Linked DNA regions of Homo sapiens: region 2 is linked to region 1. The links come from fine-mapping of genetic effects on gene expression. A gene starts in region 1. The other region holds a variant in brackets. All regions are shown on one strand. Distances are from middle to middle.

Evidence for each region.
Region 2: its variant is fine-mapped to the expression of CD4 in whole blood (TOPMed, PIP above 0.99).

What each region holds. Positions count from the first base shown.
Region 1 is chr12:6,785,031-6,794,685 of GRCh38, reverse strand. CD4 (CD4 molecule) reads right to left here and starts at 5,158. Exons shown (of 10, transcript NM_000616.5): 1 at 5,024-5,158. RefSeq lists enhancers at 2,087-2,136, 5,252-5,301, 5,117-5,674 and a silencer at 7,609-7,903.
Region 2 is chr12:6,817,490-6,827,144 of GRCh38, reverse strand. It overlaps CD4 (CD4 molecule), which reads right to left. Exons shown (of 10, transcript NM_000616.5): 8 at 8,603-8,724; 9 at 8,231-8,298; 10 at 6,346-7,846. The coding sequence ends at 7,816. GPR162 (G protein-coupled receptor 162) reads right to left here and starts at 5,324. Exons shown (of 5, transcript NM_019858.2): 1 at 5,245-5,324; 2 at 2,380-3,677; 3 at 1,472-1,661; 4 at 792-949; 5 at 1-492. The coding sequence starts at 3,246. RefSeq lists enhancers at 1-81, 5,341-6,313, 7,284-7,784, 7,785-8,285. The variant AG/G (reference allele first, on the strand shown) is at 4,284.

The DNA.
Region 1 (9,655 bases):
AGATAGATATATAAGGCCGGATGCAGTGGCTCACACCTGTAATTCCAGCACTTTGGGAGGCCAAGGCAAGTGGATCACCTGAGGTCGGGAGTACGAGACCAGCCTGGCCAACATAGTGAAATCCCATCTCTACTAAAAATACAAAAATTAGCTGGGCATGGTGACGCACGTCTGTAATCTCAGCTACTTGGGAGGCTGAGGCAGGAGAATCACTTGAACCCGGGAGGCGGAGGTTGCAGTGAGCCGAAATCACGCCACTGCACTCCAGCCTGGGCAACAGAGCGAGACTCCATCTCAAAAAAAAAAAAGATAGATATATGTCCAGGCACGGTGGCTCACGCCTGTAATCCCAGCACTTTGGGAAACCAAGGTGGGTGGATCACTTTAGGTCAGGAGTTGGAGACCAGCCTGGCCAACATAGTGAAACCCTATCTCTACTGAAAATACAAAAATTAGCCAGGAGTGGTGGTGGGTAGTCCCAGCTACTGAGGAGGCTGAGGTAGGAGAATCGCTTGAACCCGGGAGGCGGAGGTTGCAGTGAGCCGAGATCGTGCCACTGCACTCCAGCCTGGGTGACAGAGTGACTCTGTCTCAAAAAAAAAAAAAGATAGATAGATCAATAGATAAGATAGATACATAAAGATAGATAGACAGATATAGATAGATTAGATAGATAGGTGATAGATAGATAGATAGATAGATAGATAGATAGATATAGATAGATAGAAGCCGGGTGTCGTGTGTGGTGGCTCATACCTATAATCCAGCACCTTGGGAGGCCGAGGCAGGCAGATCACTTGAGGCCAGGAGTTTGAGACCAGCCTGGCCAACATCATGAAACCCCCGTGTCTACTAAAAATACAAAAAAATTAGCTGGGGATGGTGGCGGGCGCCTGTAATCTCAGCTACTTGGGATTACTTGTAGTGCCACTGCACTACAGCCTGGGCGACAGAGTGAGATTTTGTCTCAAAAAAAAAAAAGATAGATAGATAGATAGATAGATAGATAGATAGATAGATAGATAGATAGATAGATGATAGATAGATACAATTTTGTTTAAACCGGGGAAGTAGGAAGAAAAGAGGTCAGGAAGGAGGTTTCTGAAAAAGGAGGAAGGGAGACTAGCCACCAGTGATGGTGAAGTGTTTACAGGTTAGCATGCAGATGGGAGGCATCTAGGGGAAGGCTGCAGTGAGAAGAGTAGAATAGGAGTAGCCTCATACCAAAGAGTGGTTCCCACTGTCCCCCATCCCAGACTGACTGGGTCCTTGGTGAGCAGGGGATGAAAGAGGGGAAGTCTCCATAAACGATATCCCTTCTCTGGGGTCCAAATTCAGCTTACCCTGATAAGATGCCTGGGGAAGACTAGAGGCATTCTTGACCCTTCCCCATATGGTGGCTGTTTTGACTCCCCCAGCTCCATGGTCCTGAGGTATGTGCAGACAGCCACCTCCCTGCCTCCAGCTCCCTGTTCTGCCTCATCTCACCCCAAGGCTCTGCTAAGTGGAGGAGGCTGTGGGTTTCCAGCATGCTTGCTTTGGTGCTTTGGGCTTCCGCTGCCACCCCAGAGATCTGGCCTTTGATTCCCATACTCAGCGTCCCCAGAGGTGTCTTACCCTAGTACGGTAGCATCCTGTATACCAGCACTCCGAGAGAGGCTGGGAGGGCTCTCTGGTCCCTCAAGCCCTGGCACGTCTCTCTCTCTCTTTCTGTCTCTCTCTCTCCCTCCTTGCTTCTCAGCTCACATCTGTGCATTTCTGTATCTATGCTTCCCAGCCCCCAGCTTATGCCCCCAGCCTGCAGCTCCCTGTGTCTGTGTCTGTCTTCCTCTTTGCCTCATATACCAGGCGGCCGTGCTGGCTCTCCCGGGCTCCCCTGGAATGCCCCTTGCCTCTTCTCCTTTTTCAGCTTCCCCTCTCAGGCTGCCACTAAGCTCTAGCTCCTTCCGGTCTGTACACAGTCCTCCTGGCCTTTGGCAGCAATGCAGACCCTGGACAAGCTTTGATCTGTGGGGAGCCTGCCGAGCACGCCTGCAGCCCAGGGTGGATGTGAGGGAGCCGGCTGCAGGGTGGGAGGGACACATGGACAAAGGGAAATGGACAGAGTTCCCCAGAATGCACAGAGCCTCAAGGGAGGAGGGGAGGGAAAGATGTGGGAGAGAGAGACCTGGAGCAGCTTGTTAAAGCAACAGCTATGCACACACAATCCACAATCACACACAAAGCGCAGGGTAGTACAAAAAAAGAGGAAAAGAAGAAATTCTGAGAAGCAAGACAGATGCACAGAGCATAGATCCAAAGTGAGGCAAAGAGAGACTGAGAAAGAGAAGAGACCAAAATGGCAACACACACCACGCACTTTCTCAGAGCCTTGAGGTTCCTGCCGCCCTCACCCCTGGCCCCCAGGGATGGGATGAGGGGCGAGGCTTGGGAGGGTAAGAGGGCCCAGCTCCACCACAGCGAGAGTCTGTGGTCCCACAGGCACTTTTATCTTCTCCCCATAACCCCCAAGCAGCCCACTCAAGCCCAGCCGCGGGATGTGCCCCACCGCGTTCACCCTCTCTACTGCTGACTAGCTTCCTATAAACTTCCTAGAGACTGTGACCCCTCTAAGGAACTCTTGTGGTTGGTGGCTGCAACCTCCGCCATCCTCTTCTTCGCCTCAGACACCCACATCGGGGGAACCGTGCCCACCCTCCTTCCCTCATCCCCTCAAAGGTACAGAACAGAGCTCAAACTCAGAGCCTTGCAAACCCAGACCCCTGCCCACCTACTTCTGATTCCCCACCTTCATCAAAGTTATTTTGAGACAGGGCCTCACTCTCGCCCAGGCTGGAGTGCAGTGGCACAGTCAGGCCTCACTGCAGCCTCCGTCTCCCAGGCTCAAGCAATCCTCCCACCTCAGCTTCCCAAGTAGCTGGAACCACAGGCACACACTACCATGCCCAGCTAACTTTTGTGGGGTTTGTAGAGATGGGGGTTTCACCATGTTGCCCAGGCTGGTCTCAAACTCCCAGGTTCAAGCCATCCTCCTGCCTCGGCCTCTCAAAGGGCTGGGATTACTGGTGTGGGCCACCACGCCCGGCCCATCACAGGTATTTCATTCAACAAACATTTATTGAGTGTCTAAAATGTGCAAGACTGGCCCAGTATGGTGGCTCACGTCTGTAATGCCAGCACTTTGGGAGGCCAAGGCGGGCGGATCATTTGAGGCCAGGAGTTTGAGGCCAGCCTGTCCAACATAGTGAAACCTGGTCTCTACTAAAAATACAAAAAGTAGCCGGGCGTGGTGTTGGGCTCCTGTAATCCCAGCTACTCAAGAGGCTGAGGCAGGAGAATCGCTTGAACCCAGGAGGTGGAGGCTGCAGTGAGTGGAGATCACGTCATTGCACTCCAGCCTGGGCAAGAGAGCGAGACTCCGTCTCAAAAATAATAATAAAAAATAAAACGTGCAAGACAATTGGTCTAGCCAATTGCCCTCAGCACCACCCCGCCATTACGGCCAGGGTCAGAGCCTAGGGCTGCCCCCAAGCTCTGTCTAGCACCAGTGGTGGGAGGAGTTTTTATCTAGATATAGACCTCTCCTATGTAAGTGCTCCCACATTGAAAGAGGGAAATCATCTCCCGAGTGTCTCTAACGCTGTCCTCAGGGGCTCTTTCATCTGACTTTGAGGGCGGCGGCCATTTTGTATCAGCCTACAGCATCTGATACAGCACAAGGAATTATTGGTCAAAATGTGAAGTAGCAGTGACTTCCCCCATCAGGCCCTGCTCTTAGCCTTGCCCCGATAAAAATGTCCACCACAAGAGCAGGGCATTCAGGAAGCACTATCCCACTCAGAGTGAAATCTTTGAATTATTGAGAACAGGGCCTTTCCGTTTTGAGGGATCAGAACGTACCCCAGGAAACCTCTCTCCCAGAAGAAGCCTATGAGGGGAAAGCAGAGGACACTGGGGATAGCACGGCTTCAAGGCCATGAGGTCTCAGGGGCTGGAAAGGTCTGAGGGCGGAAAGGCTGAGATGGCACAGGGCTTCCCTTCAGGAGGGACAGTGAGTCCTCACTCTCCCTCACACCCTGCCAGGCCCAGGAGGGGCTGCACATCCTTCTGTAACTCTCCCGGCCTCATGAGACCCCTACCACCAATTCTTTTCGAATCCGTTTCTTAAATGACATATTTATCTAAAGATATGTATCTGCAACTTTTAGGGCAATTCATACGCAAAAGCTCAGTTTCAACACTTTCTGAGAATTTTAGCTTTCCTATTTCATGAATCATTTTAAAGCTAACTAGAGTAGAAGTGCCTTTAGACATTGTTCAAAAATCTTAAAAGAGCAAAGAAGCAGACAAAAATTTAAAAATACACACAGAAACACAAAAGGTAGTTAAAAGAGACTATTACATAGATCATGCGACTTATGAAATGCTGCAAGTATGATATTTGGTGTCAATTTTTGGAGATTGTCCCGTTAAGGAAAATTGGTTTTGCAAGAATTTTCTCTAGACTAGATTCCACTTCTTTTGCTCTTTTTCTTGTTTTTATGTTTTTCCTCATCATTTCTTTTTTATAGGTTTCCTCCCACCTTATATTTATTTATTCTTTCTAATTTTTTCCCTCCCCTTCTTCACTCTTTTTCTCCTCTTTTCCCCTCTTCCAGTCTTCTCCCCTCAACTGCCCACGACTAGTTGCCTTCCACGCCTTTCCCAGCCTGGGATAGTCTCCAGTCTTCACTCCCTCTCTGATCTTGCTATTTAGGTCACTACTCCTCTAAGGAGCACCCATTGCTCTGGACACTGAGCTGTGCACGCTGGGGCTGCAGAGAGGAGTCTAGCACAGTCTCTGACCTCTGGAAGCTCACAGTTCCAGTGGGAAATCGCTGCTCATGACCAGTTCCAAGAGAAATGCAAGAGAAGGTGGCCAGAGCTGTGGGCAGACAACTGGGCAGAGCACATTCCTGTGCATCTGCCCCACGTTCCCCTCCCTCTCAGCTCCGGGGAAGGAAGCCGAGTCTGACCACCTTACCTCTGGGCTTGCGTCTTTCTTGCCCGCTGCTTCTCAAACAGGCGTATCTGTGTGAGGACTTGGAGCTCTGCAACCAGGAGCCCAGTGGGGAGGGTGCTTTGTTCCTTCTGCAGAGTCGTGCTTAAATGAAGAGAGACAGGAAGCCCGATGGCAAGGCTCCTCCACACCCTAGGCCTGGGCCGGCCCCAAACGTCACCAGCTGGAGCTGGGTTCCCCACCCCCCAGGCTCTCAGGGAACATGTCAAAGTGAAAATGCCAAAGTCAAGGGAAAAAGTTAAGCAGAATCAGGCTTAAATCAGGAGTCAAACTGTCACTGCCACTGTTAAGCGGCAAGAAAAAGATGGCAAGAAAGATTCCATTAGTGGTAGCGCCATGTCTGACCAGGCTGTGGGGAAAGAAGTGGGAGGCAGTTGGGGGCATATGGGAACAGCAGTGGTAAGCCCACAAACAGCTCCTTGCTCTGGGGCCCTGAGGGCATGTGTCCAGTGGGTGCCCCAGGGGTATCTGTGGAGGCTTTATAGGTGGCCCAGTGTGGAAGAGAGGGCGTGGGCTGAGCAGAGAATATCTGAGACACCAGGAGTGACTGTTAACCAGGCTCTGTTCCTCTAGGCGTCTCTGGCCAGGCCTCAGGTGCTTTCCTCTAGCCCGAATCTACCATGAACTCTCTATGTGAGTATCCGTCTGCCCATTGGACATCTCCACTGGGAAGCTCACCGGACATAGCAAACTCAACACACATCCCCAACTATGCATACCACCTGCATACTACCACCCTCCAAACCTGCTTCTCCAGGCTTCTCACTCAGTGAGGGGCTCACCATCCACCAACTTGCCCAAGCAAAATAAATTGGGTGTAATCTTTGACACCCCCTTCACCCAACTTCTCCCACGTATTTATTTACCAGTTCCTGTGGATGTTACCTTCTAAATGGCTCCAAAATCTACCCAAGTCACTCTGCACTACCACTACTGCCACCATGCCAATCCAAGATGCCAATATCATCCCTTGCTCGGACAACAGCTCCTGCCTCCTCACTGGTCGCCATTCTCCATACCACAGCCCAAGTGATCATTTAAAGATGCACATGTGAGTGTGCGTTTTCCAGTCTGAAAAAAGTGGGGCTGGGAGTGGTGGCTCATGCCTATAATCCCAGCATTTTAGGAGGCCGAGGTGGGGGGATCGCTTGAGCCCAGGAAGTTGAGGCTGCAGTGAACCGTGATTGCACCACTGCACTCTAGCCTGAGTGACAGAGTGAGAACCTGTCTTGAAAAGAAGAAAAGAAAAGAAAAGAAAAGAAAACTCTAGTTCAGCTTGCGACTCCAACAATTAACACAAGTACCCCTATTTGACAGCATTGTACTTCATCTGTAGCATATAGTACTGTGTGCTACTTCTCATTTCATGACACACCGTACTCAAGGGTTGAGATTTAATAAAATTAGTATTTACTGCTTCATTAAAGGCATTCTATATATATATATATATATATTTTTTTTTTTTTTTTTTTTTGAGAGGGAGTCTCACTCTGTTGCCCAGGCTAGAGTGCAGTGGCGTGATCTTGGCTCACTGCAACCTCTGCCTCCCGGGTTCAAGCAATTCTCCTGCCTCAGCCTCCCAAGTAGCTGGGGCTACAGGCATGCGCCACAATGCCCAGCTAATTTTTGTATCTTTAGTAGAGATGGGGTTTCACCATGTTGCCCAGGATGGTCTTGATCTCTCTTTTTTTTTTTTTTTTTTTTGAGACAGAGTCTTGCTTTGTCATCCAGGCTGAAGTGCAGCAGCATGATTTCGGCTTACTACAACCTCCGCCTCCTGGATTCAAGCCATTCTCCTGCCTCAGCCTCCCGAGTAGCTGGGATTACAGGCACCCGCCAACATGCCTGGCTAATTTTTGTATTTTTGTAGAGACAGGGTTTCACTCGTTGGCCAGGCTGGTCTTGAACTCCTGACCTCAGGTGATCCTGATCTGCCCGCTTCGGCCTCCCAAAGTGCTGGGATTACAGGCACGAGCCACTGCGCCCGGCCTCATTAAGGGCATTCTTAAGTAAAAGTGGCATTAATTTTTTTTCTTTTTTTACTGTAAGTACCTGGCAGTGAAGAATGCAATGACTATCATATGGTTTGGCACCACTGCCTTCATTTATGCTAAGGCAGCAGTTTTATCCAGATTGTTTTTGCAACATTATTGCAATGTCAACATAGTGACAAAGGAAAATAACATCCTGTATTTTTTTATGAAAATAGCTTGACCTTGAAGATCCCCTGAAAGGGTCTCAGGGACTCCCAAGGGTCTGCAGGCCACACTTCACTCTGAGAACCACTGATCTAGGTAATTTTTATTCATTCTTCAGATCTCAGCTATCGCTTTAGCTGTCCCCAAAGTCTATTTTCTCCTTCTTGGTAATAGAACCCTCAATTTTTAGCTGAGCTCTTAGCTACCCAGATTTAAAATATACTTCCCAGCCTCCCTCACAGCTGGATGTGTCCAAGTGACTCAATTTTGGTTAATAGATAGAAGTGAAAGTATTAGGTGCAACCTCAGAGTTGCTCCTCAAAGTGGGGAAAATGTATCCTCCTCAGGCCTTCTTCCTTCAGACTAGAAAGCAAACACCCTCCCTATTGTTCACAGCCAGTCTGCTTTTCTCATTTACATTACCTGGCAGGCTCTGGTAGGCATTGATGTTTTGAGCCCTGCTCCATTCATTCATGTACGTAGTTAAGCGTGTACCAGCCCAAGGCACTCTGCTAGGTAGCTGGGGATGTGATGTTGAAGAAGACAGATATGGTCACCACTCCAGCTTATGACATAGACACTAAACAACGAACAACTTCATTACAATTCGACAAGCGCTACAAAGGAAAAAGCACAAGGTGCTGGGAGATCTTATCACAAAAGAACCTTCTTTCAACTGGGAGAATTGTCTATCGGTAAGCACTGGGTTCTGCTACAAGCAAAAGAAAACCCAAAATAATAGAGGCTTCAACAAGATTGAAGTTATTTTTCACATGTAGGAAGTGTGGAGGTGGGTGGTGCAGAAGAGAGGGAGCAGCACGCCGTCCTCCAGGGCCAAGATTGGGGCTGTTTATATTTTGTTGCTCTACCATTCTCCTGCACAGGACTTCCTCCCCAGAGTCTCAGAGGATACTCAGGTTCCTCAGTTGAAATCAGTTTTCCTTGTGATAAGATCTCCCAGTCCCCTGTGCTTCTCCCTTCGTAGCAATTTTCCAGTTGCAATGAAGTTATTTGCTGCTTAGTGTCTAGCTCACAGGCCAGAGCGGTGACCGTGTCTGTCTTAGTTAGCACTATGTTCCCAGCACCCTCACAGATGCCTTGGCCCTGGAAGACCCTTAATGCTTGTTTAATATTTTCCTAATATATTAAATTTTATTGATATTAAATTTATTGCGGTAAAATACACGCAACATAAGATTTTCCATTTTAAGCTTTTTTTTTTTTTTTTTCCAAGACGGAGTCTTACTCTGTCCCCCAGGCTGGAGTGCAGTGGCACAATCTAGGTTCACTGCAACCTCCACCTCCTGGGTTCAAGCGATTCTCCAGCCTCAGCCTCCCGAGTAGCTGGGACTACAGGTGCCCGCCACCACGCCTGGCTAATTTTTGTATTTTTAGTAAAGACGGGGTTTCACCATGTTGGCCAGGCTGGTCTCGAATTCCTGACCTCAAGTGATCTGCTCACCTTGGCCTCCCAAAGTGTTGGGATTACAGGTGTGAGTCACCACACCCGGCCATTTTAGGCATTTTTTAATGTACTGCTCTGTGGGACTGAGTACACTCACATGGTTGTGTAACCATCTAGAAATTTTTCATCTTCCCCAAATGAAACTCTGTACCCATTAAATACTGACTCCTCATTCTAACTCCCTGCAACTCCTGGCTATTGAATAATATTTTTTTTTCTTTTTTCTTTTCTTTTTTTTTTGGAAACAGAGTCTTGCTCTGTCGCCGAGGCTCGAGTGCAGTGGTGTGATCTCGGCTCACTGCAACCTCCGCCTCCCAGGTTCAAGCGAATCTCCTGCCTCAGACTCCCGAGTATCTGGGATTACAGGCGTGCGCCACCAAGCCTGGCTAATTTTTGTATTTTTAGTACAGACAGGGTTTCACCATGTTGGCCAGGCTGGTCTCGAACTCCTGACCTCAAGTGATTCTCCTGCCTCTGCCTCCCAAAGTGCTGGGATTATAGGCGTGAGCCACTGCACCAGGCCAAATAATTTTTGAATGGATAAATAGAGAAGTATGGACAAGAGCAGGAGAGCAGGGCTACAAATGTAAATGCTTACAGGAGCCCCCTAGGTAGTGCAAATGAGAAAGGTACACTGGTGGTGACCAAAAGGGAAGGGTAGGGACTGGGGGAAACCAGAGAGTACTTGCCTCAGCTAGTTAAGGGCAGCCATTCCCTGCATAGCTGTCTGAGTTGACCGTAGAGGCTATACTGGCATGTGAGCCTAGAGTTGCCTGCTCTGCCAAAATTTCTAGAGAAGGTGAAAACCAGACATTTATGTAATACCTCCTGATTTTAATATTGGTAACAAATTTTTTCAACTTGTCGTGACACTGGGTAGAGCAAACAGAGCATTCCAAGGGCTGGCTCTAGCTTTGGGCCCACCGGTTTGCA
Region 2 (9,655 bases), 32 kb before region 1:
TGCACTTTCTTCACCCCCCGTCAGGGAGCAGCGTCTCCCTGCGCTTAGTCCCAAAGGAAGTCCAACGGCTCTGCTCTCAGGGGACCCAAGGGAGAGTCGGCGGGGTGAGAGGCCCAGTGGCCGGGGCCGACGAGGAGAGTGCCCTGGTGAGGCAGTCGGAGAAGGCAGAGGTGTCTCATCGATGAAGGTGGTGATCTCCTCCCGGAAGAAGCCAGGACCCCGTGGGGGTCCCCCACCTGACCCCAGAACCCCACTCTCCAAGAATTGGCGAAGGCTGGCCAGCCCCCCACCTTCAGCCTCTTCCTCGTCCTCCTCGTCCTCCAACCTGTGTCTTTGTCCCAGGTACTCAGGAGGACCCCCGAGGGCCCGGCTCTGGGCTGGGAGGACCCGGATGTCATCAGAGGATGACCACTTGTGCAGGAAGGAGCCTGGTTCCCGAGGGGTAGAGAAGATGTTTGTCTCATCATGGGACAGACGCCGGGATAGGGGGACCTGGGAAGAGGAGCGGGTAAGACCTGAAGGTGCTGCAGGGACAGAGGCAGAGGCAGGAACCAAGTGGGGACTCCGGAAGATGGTGCCACCTTCTTAACCTTCAAAACGTTTGCTCCGGTGGGCAAACCTGGCCCCACGAGGTCTGAAGGGATGCCTCTCTTGCTATAGCTTTCTTTCACCCAGCTCTATGGTGCCCTGAAAGCCAGGGCTAGGGAAGAGGGGATTGGGGTGCCTAACAGACACTGGAGAAAAGTGATGAGCGGCACCAAGGGTAGGAGATGTATCCCCCAGTTCCATACCTGTAAGTAGTGGACTCTCTCAAGAGGAGGGAAGAGCATGTGCCTTCCAGGCAGCAGCTTCACCTGGGCGGGGTCCCGGCTCCCTGGTCCTGTGGCTCCGTTAGCATCAAAGCGAACTTTGCAAACTCGGCCCTCTGCATAGTCGTCACAGCCCCCATCTAGGAGAGAAAATGGGCAGAGTGGTTACAGGTAGGGAATGCCTACCGCGGCCTCCCACCACTGCCTTTATAAGCTCCCAGAGACCCCTTTAGTTCCCATTAGCATGTATGTTCCAAGAGGACAGTGAGAGTGGCTAGCATTTGCTGCGTTCAGTGCTAAATCCTGAGTGGAGTGCTTCATACATATAGATGAAGTTATTGAAACAATTGCCTGCACTCCCCCAAGAGCCGTCCCTATAGCTGGGGGGCCTCTCTCGGGAAGCTCAGGTTCCCCATAGTGCCAGAGCTGGGCAGTGTGGGTTTCTGGAGGGGAGCCTAGGCCCAGTGAAGGGAGCCCTGAGTGCTGCGGGAAGCAGTGAGTGGACAGCAGGGTGCCTGCTTAGGGAAAGGGGAGCCCAGGGTGGTGCAGATTCTGTCCAGTAGGGGGCACTCCAGGGCAGCCCATCCTCTGGCTGAGAAGGAGCGGCAGAAAAGGGAATAGACAGATGTCCAGGAAAGCCAAAGCCCAGCCCCTCCTCTGACCGTCATCTCCATCCTCCTCAGACATGATGGCCACGCATTGCTCCCACACTGTGCGCACGTCGGCGCGGTAGCGCTCGCAGGACCAGATGAAGGAGGGCAGCAGCAGCGTCTGTGCCATGGAGCACCACAGCACAGCCAGCACCATCCAGGGGGGCGCCGAGTCCGACTTGAGGGAGAAGAAGCTCACCACCTGGGGAAGGGTGGGAGCGGGCTGGGTCAGGGCCAGAGCTGAGGAGCCCACCTGAACCCCATATCCTAGTGCAGCTGGTGGGCAAGACGTCAGAAGTAATGCCTGATCCCTGTGCTCCAACAGAGGCGAAGCCGGAGGTGGAGATGGAGTGAACAGAGGGAAGGGACTGACTCAGAGGAAGGTCGGGGAGAGTGCTGGAGACAAAGCCCTGCGGTCAGGAGGGAGAGGAACAGAGGTGGACCAGGAACCGTAGAGACAGACAGGAACCCAGGAACAGTGACTAGATGGGGTGGTGGGGTGAGCCCTGTGGGATTTCCAGCCAAGAGTGCTCAGAGACCATGTGGCAGCCCGAGGGAAGGAGGGAATGGAGAGTGGAGCCCAGCGGCTGGATGAGAGGTCTGCGGCTGAACCGTGGAGCTGCAGGATGGATGACGGAGCTGGAGGACAGGTCGTGGAACTGAAGGACGGTGATGGAGCTGAGGAGTGGGAACTGAAGCAGATGCTGGAGCTGGGGTAAACAGGGTAGTGGGAACTAAAAGACAGATGATCAAGATGGGGGCCACAAATGGAGTGGGGGATGGACAGAGGAGAGGAAGATGGATGATGGAACTGGAGGAGAGATGACGGAGCTGCTGTATGGCTGATGAAGTTGGAGGTCAGGTGATGATGCTGGGGCCTGGATATTGGGGAGAACAGGTGGGGAGGACCCCGATCTCACCAAGATGGGCACCCCTGTGAGTGAGTCATAGAGAAAGACGATGGCGCTGACCAAGTTGGTGACCTGCAGGGATGTCTTGGCAGACTCCGAGCCATCCAGCGAGGACCGCCGCTTCCCTCGGGCATCCTCCACCACAATGGCTGGTACCTCAAAAGCTGGCCGGGTACCCAAGGCCCCTGGCCCACCCGCTTTGGTCCCCCCACCACCCCCCACTCTCCGGGCCTGCCGAGCCCTCCGGGGCCGGGCCCACAGTGTCTGGTAGAAGGTGATGGCCACACAGACCAGACCCATGACAATTCCCCCAAGTAGCAAGAGGCTGAAGCAAACGCCAAAGCCGAGGCCGATCTTGGAGACTATGAACTGGCAGCCGCGGGCATAGTAGCGCTCGCCGTTGTTGTGCCAGCCAATGGAGGGCAGTGTGGAGAGGATGAAGCTGACCATCCAGATGCCCATGACGGCATGCAGTGCCTGCTTCTTGGCGTTGCTGAGGCGGTAGTTGACGGGCCAGCGCACCATCCACATGCGATGGTAGGAGAGGGAGGCGACCGTGAAGCAGGTGGCCAGCGCCAGGGTGTAGTAGGTGGACACGAAGACCTTGCAGATACTCTCGTTCCAGTCATAGTCGGAGGAAGCCTGACGACGCAGCTGCACCACGGCAAAGGTGGTGAGGGGCACAGCTGCCATGAGTATGTGTGTGCCCGCTAGGAAGCAGAGCAGCAGCTCCAGTGGCTTGTGCTTCTGCTGCTTGGCCGAGATGCTGAGGATGATCCAGGCATTGGCCAGCAGCGCCAGGAGCCCACAGGCCAGCCAGGACAATGCGTTGGAGCGCAGGGAGGCCTCCTCTGCCCCCGCCCCGCCCCGAGCCATCCTATCCTCAGCCCCCCACCCCCTTGAGCTCTGTGGGGGTGGGGGCTAGGTCTCACCCAGGAGCCCCACTCACAAACACTCCCATGATCCCCACAATCCTCGCCCTGTCAGCAGGCAGGCTGCCCCCAGGCTCACCCCAGTGCTCAGCATTGCATGATGGACCCAGCTGAGGGCAGATGTAGAGGGCAGGGGAGGAGACTGAGGGTCAGCAGAGGCAATCCTCAGCTTTCATACTGGGCGGGGCCTTCCTTAAGCATCCCTGCAATTGATGGGGCAGGCAAGCTGGCTACTTTCCCAACTATGAGGCTGGCTGGGGGGTTCTGGTCCCCATGCTGGGACTTCCAGGTCTCTTTTGCCTCTGGTTCTTGACCAGTCAGGAATCTTCTGGATGCCCCAGGGATTTGGGGGTGGGGCTCAGCCCCCTGGACAGGCTGCAAGGGAAAGATGAGATGTGGGAGGGAGAGGGCAAAGGTAGGGCCTGGGCTGGTCTCCAATCAGCCTCCTGTGCCCCCTTTCTTGAAACTATAGGCATGACTGATTACTAAGGCCCTGAGGGTCATTCAGAACATTCCTTTGCCTTAACTCTGACAGCTAAACACCCCACACAGATGAGAGCCGCACTCTTCCAGACCTCTAGGGAAGAAGGTATTCCCACCTCCCTGTCTCCTTTAGCCCTTCCTCCTCCCGCTGGAACTCCCAGGTTCCTTCTTAGAACATCCCCTGCTCAGCACTACTCCACCCCTATCTTCAAGTCCCTAAATGTCTCTTCAGAACTACTGATGGGAGACACAAGACTGGTTTCCTCTTGAGGGTTCACAGTGAACTGGGATATGGCATCACAGCCTTCCTCCCCTACCTGCCGGTCTCCTGGATGCAGGGGTCTTGGTGCTTAGCCCCTACTTCCCCAAACCTGGGTGATCACCCTCCAGCTACCCATATCTGGGAAAATGGGAGAAAGGAGTCTGGGACCGAAGGGGGTGCTAGGGAACCTGAAGGCGGGGAAACCGCTGACATCAGAAGCATCCAGAAATGGAAAG[AG/G]GGGGAACTAGGGAGAAGGAGGAGAGTTTGAGCAGAAGAGAAAGAGGGGGCAAAGTGGTAGTATCTGAAAATAGCAGGAAAAGCTCAAACCCCCTGGAGAGGAGGCTTTGGAGGGAGGAGGGACTGGAGGAGGGAGGGAGGGAGGGAGCAGGGAATAGGAGGCTGAGAAGAAAAGCCAAATGTTCAATAAGGTGCTGACTCCCCGTGGGGAGACCTTGACTCTTCCTCCCTGGCCCAGAGCCTCAGTTTCCCTCTCATGGGAGGAAGGATGGTCCCAGTTTTAGTGCGTGATGCTGAGCTTCAGTGAGCCCTGGGAAGGGGGGTAAGGGAATCGGGTGAAACCCTGAACAGAGTGGGGCTGTAAGGAAGCACATAATGGCTTTAGGGTAAGTGGGGTAAAAATGGGGCACAGCAGTGAAAGGGTCTGTTTCCCATGGAAGCAGCTCAGACCCTTGCTTTCCCCAAGAGGTCCTGGTCCACCCCCACCCTTGGCTTCCCTCCGGAGCCCAGTACACCCTAGTTGCCATGGCAATGGCCAGCCAGAGGGAGGTGGAGGGACTTGGCCAAGAGCAGCCCCCAGTGTCCTCTCCTACAGCCCTGGACCCCTTCCCACCCACCTCCACCCAGGCCCAGCTGGTGGGCTCAGGATGAAAGAGATAGGGAGTCAGAGAGGGAAGGAGGCAGGAAAGATGTGAAGGACAGAGAGAGGGAGGTGAAGGACAGGGAGAGATCAGAGGAAGGTGGGAAGGGGGATCTGGGAGGTTCCCTGGCCGACGGGGTCCCTCGCCCTTTGGGGTGAAGGGGTAAGGTCAGGCGGCTCCTCCCTCCTGTCCCCCTCCAGGTTCTCCAGGGCAGAAACAGCAGGTGGCTGGGGAGGAGGGGCCGGCCTAGGGGAGAGGAGGCAGCTTGAGGGGGAAAGGGAGGCAACACAGGGGACGGGGCAGGCAGGGGTCGTCTTACCTCTCTCCGGCTGCGCCCAGCACTGCCATGGAGACCGCACTCCCGACGCGGCTCTCTCGGGCTCCCGCTGCCTGCCGGCTCCAGCTCGCCCGCCCTCCTCCCTCCTTCCCTCTCTCCCTCCCTCCCTTCCCCCGGGCCTCCCTCCTCCCCCTCAGTCCCGGCCTCCCAGGCTCAGCCCACGGCTCACTCGGTCTCTGCCCCTCTCACTCTCCAGGACCCTCTCTCCCGGGGTCGTCCTGCCAGTGAGCCCAGGCCAGAGGGAAGGCAGGACAGCTTTGTGGGGGGCGGGGGGGGGCGGGAAACGAGTGCAGGGTGGGGAACTGGACGGTGGTGACTCGGGGAGGAGGGGCAAGGAAGGCGCTGAGAGGGAGGGCGGTGAGGAGGATGGCTGGGAACCGGCTTCATTGGTGAAATGGTTCATGTCCTGCCCCCACCCCTTCCCGTTTTCAACACGAACACAAGCTCCAAGAGGCAGCTGGTGTTGTTGGGGACTGAGGAGCTAGCTGTTCGGGGAGGAGGAAGCGTGTGTCACTGTGTGTATCTGTGTGAGGGCTGGGCCTTGGGTTTGGGAGTGAGGGGGCTTGTGGTGCACACTGGGGCTGCTTGTGGAGTTGGGGGTGGTTGTGCACAAGCTAAAAGGATGTGGGCGCATGCATGCACACAGACACACACACTCTGCCTCCTCCTCCTGGAACACAAACACATATGTTGGGGATACAATTTGCACACACATGTTACAGTTTCTCATAGTCCTTTTTCTCTGCCACACACATACACCAGGAGAGCTCACACAACCCTGAGTCTCTCCCCCACGGTATATCACACACATGTAATTACAGAGTCTCAGCCTCACACACACACAGGCCCACACAGAGCCCTGTGGGTTGTGGAGGTGGGTAGCCAGCCTCCACAGAATTTTTCCCTCTCCAGGGAAACTTCATCTCCTTCCTGGGGCACGCCCAGCAACCTCTCCTCTGGGTCCGACCCCAAAGACCAGAAGATTCCTGGTCCCCAGAGAAGGGGTCTCTCTCTCTCTCTCTCTCTCACACACACACACACACACACACACACACACACACACACACGAAGAGCATCTTTATAGTAAGTTTATTGTATTTTTATTTCAGCTCAGGGGAGCAGGGGTGGAGAGTGGGCACAAATGCAAAGTAAGCAAATGGGGAGCCCCAGCAGCAATAGGGGGGTCTTCCTGGAAGAGGCAGGCTTTAAAGACAGGAGGAGAAGGAAATAGGGAAAAGGAGTTGGGACTGAGGGAAGTGGTGAGGAAGGGTAGGAAGAGAGGGGATCCTGAGAGAAGTGGATCAAGAAGATTTGTAACCCTGATTTCCCTGTGTCCTGAATGGTCTGGAGGAGGGTAAGGGAGGGTGTGGGGCAGGCGCAGAGCCTGGCACAATCACCTTTGAGGTCCCTTAGAGGGTTCCCTCTCAGGCTAGCTACCCCCTCTCCCAGCAAAGCTCGCTTCCAGGAGGTTCTGCACAGGGTCAGTGACTGGTCACTGGGCATTCTCTCCTGCAGTGCCTGTGCTCCCAGCTTGCGCTCTGATTAGAAGAGCCAAAGGCTTTGTCCTCTGGTAACAGATTCTGCCACCAGCGGGGGATGAAGGAGGGATTTTAGACAGGGAGGCCTTCATCCCTGCTCGTAAATTCTCTGAGATGGACCCTTCCCATGGGTGCTGTGCTTCTGTGAACCCAAAAGTACACATTGAGTACCCACCACTAGCCACTGGTGAGAGCCGTGTGGCATTTGTCCCTGCATTCAAGAGGCAGCAGTGGAACTTGGGACAAGGGACCTGGGTTAGTCCCGACTCCAGCACTTGCTAGTCCGGCACTTGGTAATCAATCATCTAGCCTCTCTGAGCTCTGGTTCTGGTCTATAAACTGGAGATGATCATCTTAGTTCTGTCACTGCCAGCCTTGTAGGATTTTTCTAAGTCTCAAATAGACAGAGGATGTGAGACATCCCTTGAGGCCGTGTACATGGGGCTGTGTCCAGAGGGGCTGTTTGTGCAAGGTCAGGATGTGAGTCTGTGGTCCCACCCACATAGGGTGAGAAGCGGGCAGCATGGGGCAGGAGGTACTGGCTGCCAGAAACCTCTGGATCTGCATCCATCCTTGACTGGCTTGGCTGTGTGATTTTGTGCAAGTTCCTGCCCTCTGTGGTCCCAGGGTCCTGTCTTGTAAAAGAACAGTCCCATGCTCCATGCTTCCAGACACCCAGCCTCACCCTCCATGCCAGCCAGGGCTGGCCCTGAACACTCCCCTGGGATCCAAATGAGCAGTGGGGAGAGGGTCAGAGAGAAATAATGAGAGAAGGGCTAGGCTTGAAGGAAAAGGAAATGGCGTGGAGGACGGTGTGATTAAGCCTCTGGAAACTAGAGAGCAACACTCAACCAGTGAAGCCGGGGCCTAACCCAGGAGAAACAATGGCAAATTGTAGAGGAGGCGAACAGGAGGCCAGAGGCTGGGGATCTGCTACATTCATCTGGTCCGCAGGCAGGAAACGCGGGGCAGACACCTGGGGAGGCTGCAAGTGGGATCTGCCTGGCCTCGTGCCTCAAATGGGGCTACATGTCTTCTGAAACCGGCTGCAGGAACAAAGAAGAAGGGGAGCAGGTCTGTCCCCACTGCAACCCCTTTGCGTTCTAGCACCTCCAATGGCCTTTCCAGCGCAGCACAGCTCCAGTGGCTTTCCAGCAGGGCCTTTCCTGGCCTGCTGCTCCTTCAGCTCCATCCTCCCACTTCTGCCTCCTTCTAGCTCCTGGCCATCTTTTCCCACCCCTCTATCCTCTCCACCACACCCCTTTAGCCCCCATCTCCTCACCTCCACCCCTCCCAGCTCTTCCTCCTCAACTCCTTCCTCCTCTCCATCCTCCCTTCCTGCCCCCCTTTGCTCCCCTTCCTCCCCCTCCTCTCTAACTCCCTCCCCCTCCCCCTTTCCCCTCTCTCAACCCCTCCTCCCAGATCCTTACTGAGGACACTGGCAGGTCTTCTTCTCACTGAGGAGTCTCTTGATCTGAGACATCCGCTCTGCTTGGCGCTGTCCAGGGACAAGAAAGGGAGTCACGAGGGTCCCAGGCCTCCAGAAGGGAGGTGCCCCTTGGTGGGGGGAGTGGGGGAAGCTGCGACAGGAGAAGCAGTTACATGGCCCAGGCCATCTATCCTGGAATTAACTCTCTGCTCCTTCCTGTCTCTCCCTTGAGTGGGATCTGGGACAGGGCAGCAAGGGAACTTACGAGTGGGCAGAGGGAGCTGGGCCAAAATCAGTTCCCATATACAGGATCTCCTGGTAGAGGACTCAGGGGTTTGAGGGCCTTGTGGGGACCAGGTGTGGGGTTACTCACCCTTCGGTGCCGGCACCTGACACAGAAGAAGATGCCTAGCCCAATGAAAAGCAGGAGGCCGGCGACGCCCCCCAGCACAATCAGGGCCATTGGCTGCACCGGGGTGGACCATGTGGGCAGAACTGCAAGGGAGAGAAATGTGCTCAATGCACCGCCCTCCTCCACGGGCCAGGGGACTGAGGACTGCCCTGCAATCCCTCCTGGCCAGTCTCTGGTTTGACCCTGGGGTTGGGGGAGAGGGGAGGGGTGCCTGGGGGCTCTCAAAGGCCGCCAGTGCTGGGGAATCGGTTTTATGTTTGGGCATATCCATATCCAGGGCACTCTGGAGAGAGAGAAGCTGTGGTCTGGCTCCTGGGCTGTGTGTGTGAGTGCATGTGTGTGTGCATGTGTGAGTGTGTGCATGTGTGTGCGTGTGTGAATGGTGTGAATGTGTGTGTGTGCGCGCGTGTGCGCGTGTGAGTCCATGTGTGAATGTGTGTGCGTGTGTGCATGTGTGTGAATGTGTGCCTGTGTGCGTGTATGAATGTGTGTGCGTGACTGCATGCATGTGCGCGCGCGTGTGTGCACATGTGTGAATAATGCGTGTGCGGATGTGAGTGTATAAGTGTGTGAGTGTACGTGTACGACAGTGTGTGGGTGAGAGTATGTGCGTGAATGTGTAAGTGTGTGTGTGCATGCATGTGTGAGTACATGTGTGTGTATGAGTGTGTGACAGTGTGTGAGTGCATGGGTGTGAGTACATGGGGTGAGAGTGTGGGTGTGAGTGTGGATGTGTGTGTAGTGTGTGTATGAGTGTGTGCGAGTGTGTGAGTGATGTGTGTGCGTGTGTGAGAGTGTATGGGAGTGTGTGCATGTGTGTGAGAGTGTATGTGTGTGAGTGTGTGTGTAAGTGCGTCTGGATTTGGAGAAAAGCCAGGAGCCAGGGAGGGGGGCTCTCGGTCAGGTGGACCCCATCCCTAGGCTGTAGACCTGAGGGAGTGGGAACTTGTAGAATTACAACTGGCAGCCTAGAGCCCAGGACCACAACCCACCTCACTTCATCACTTCTATGCC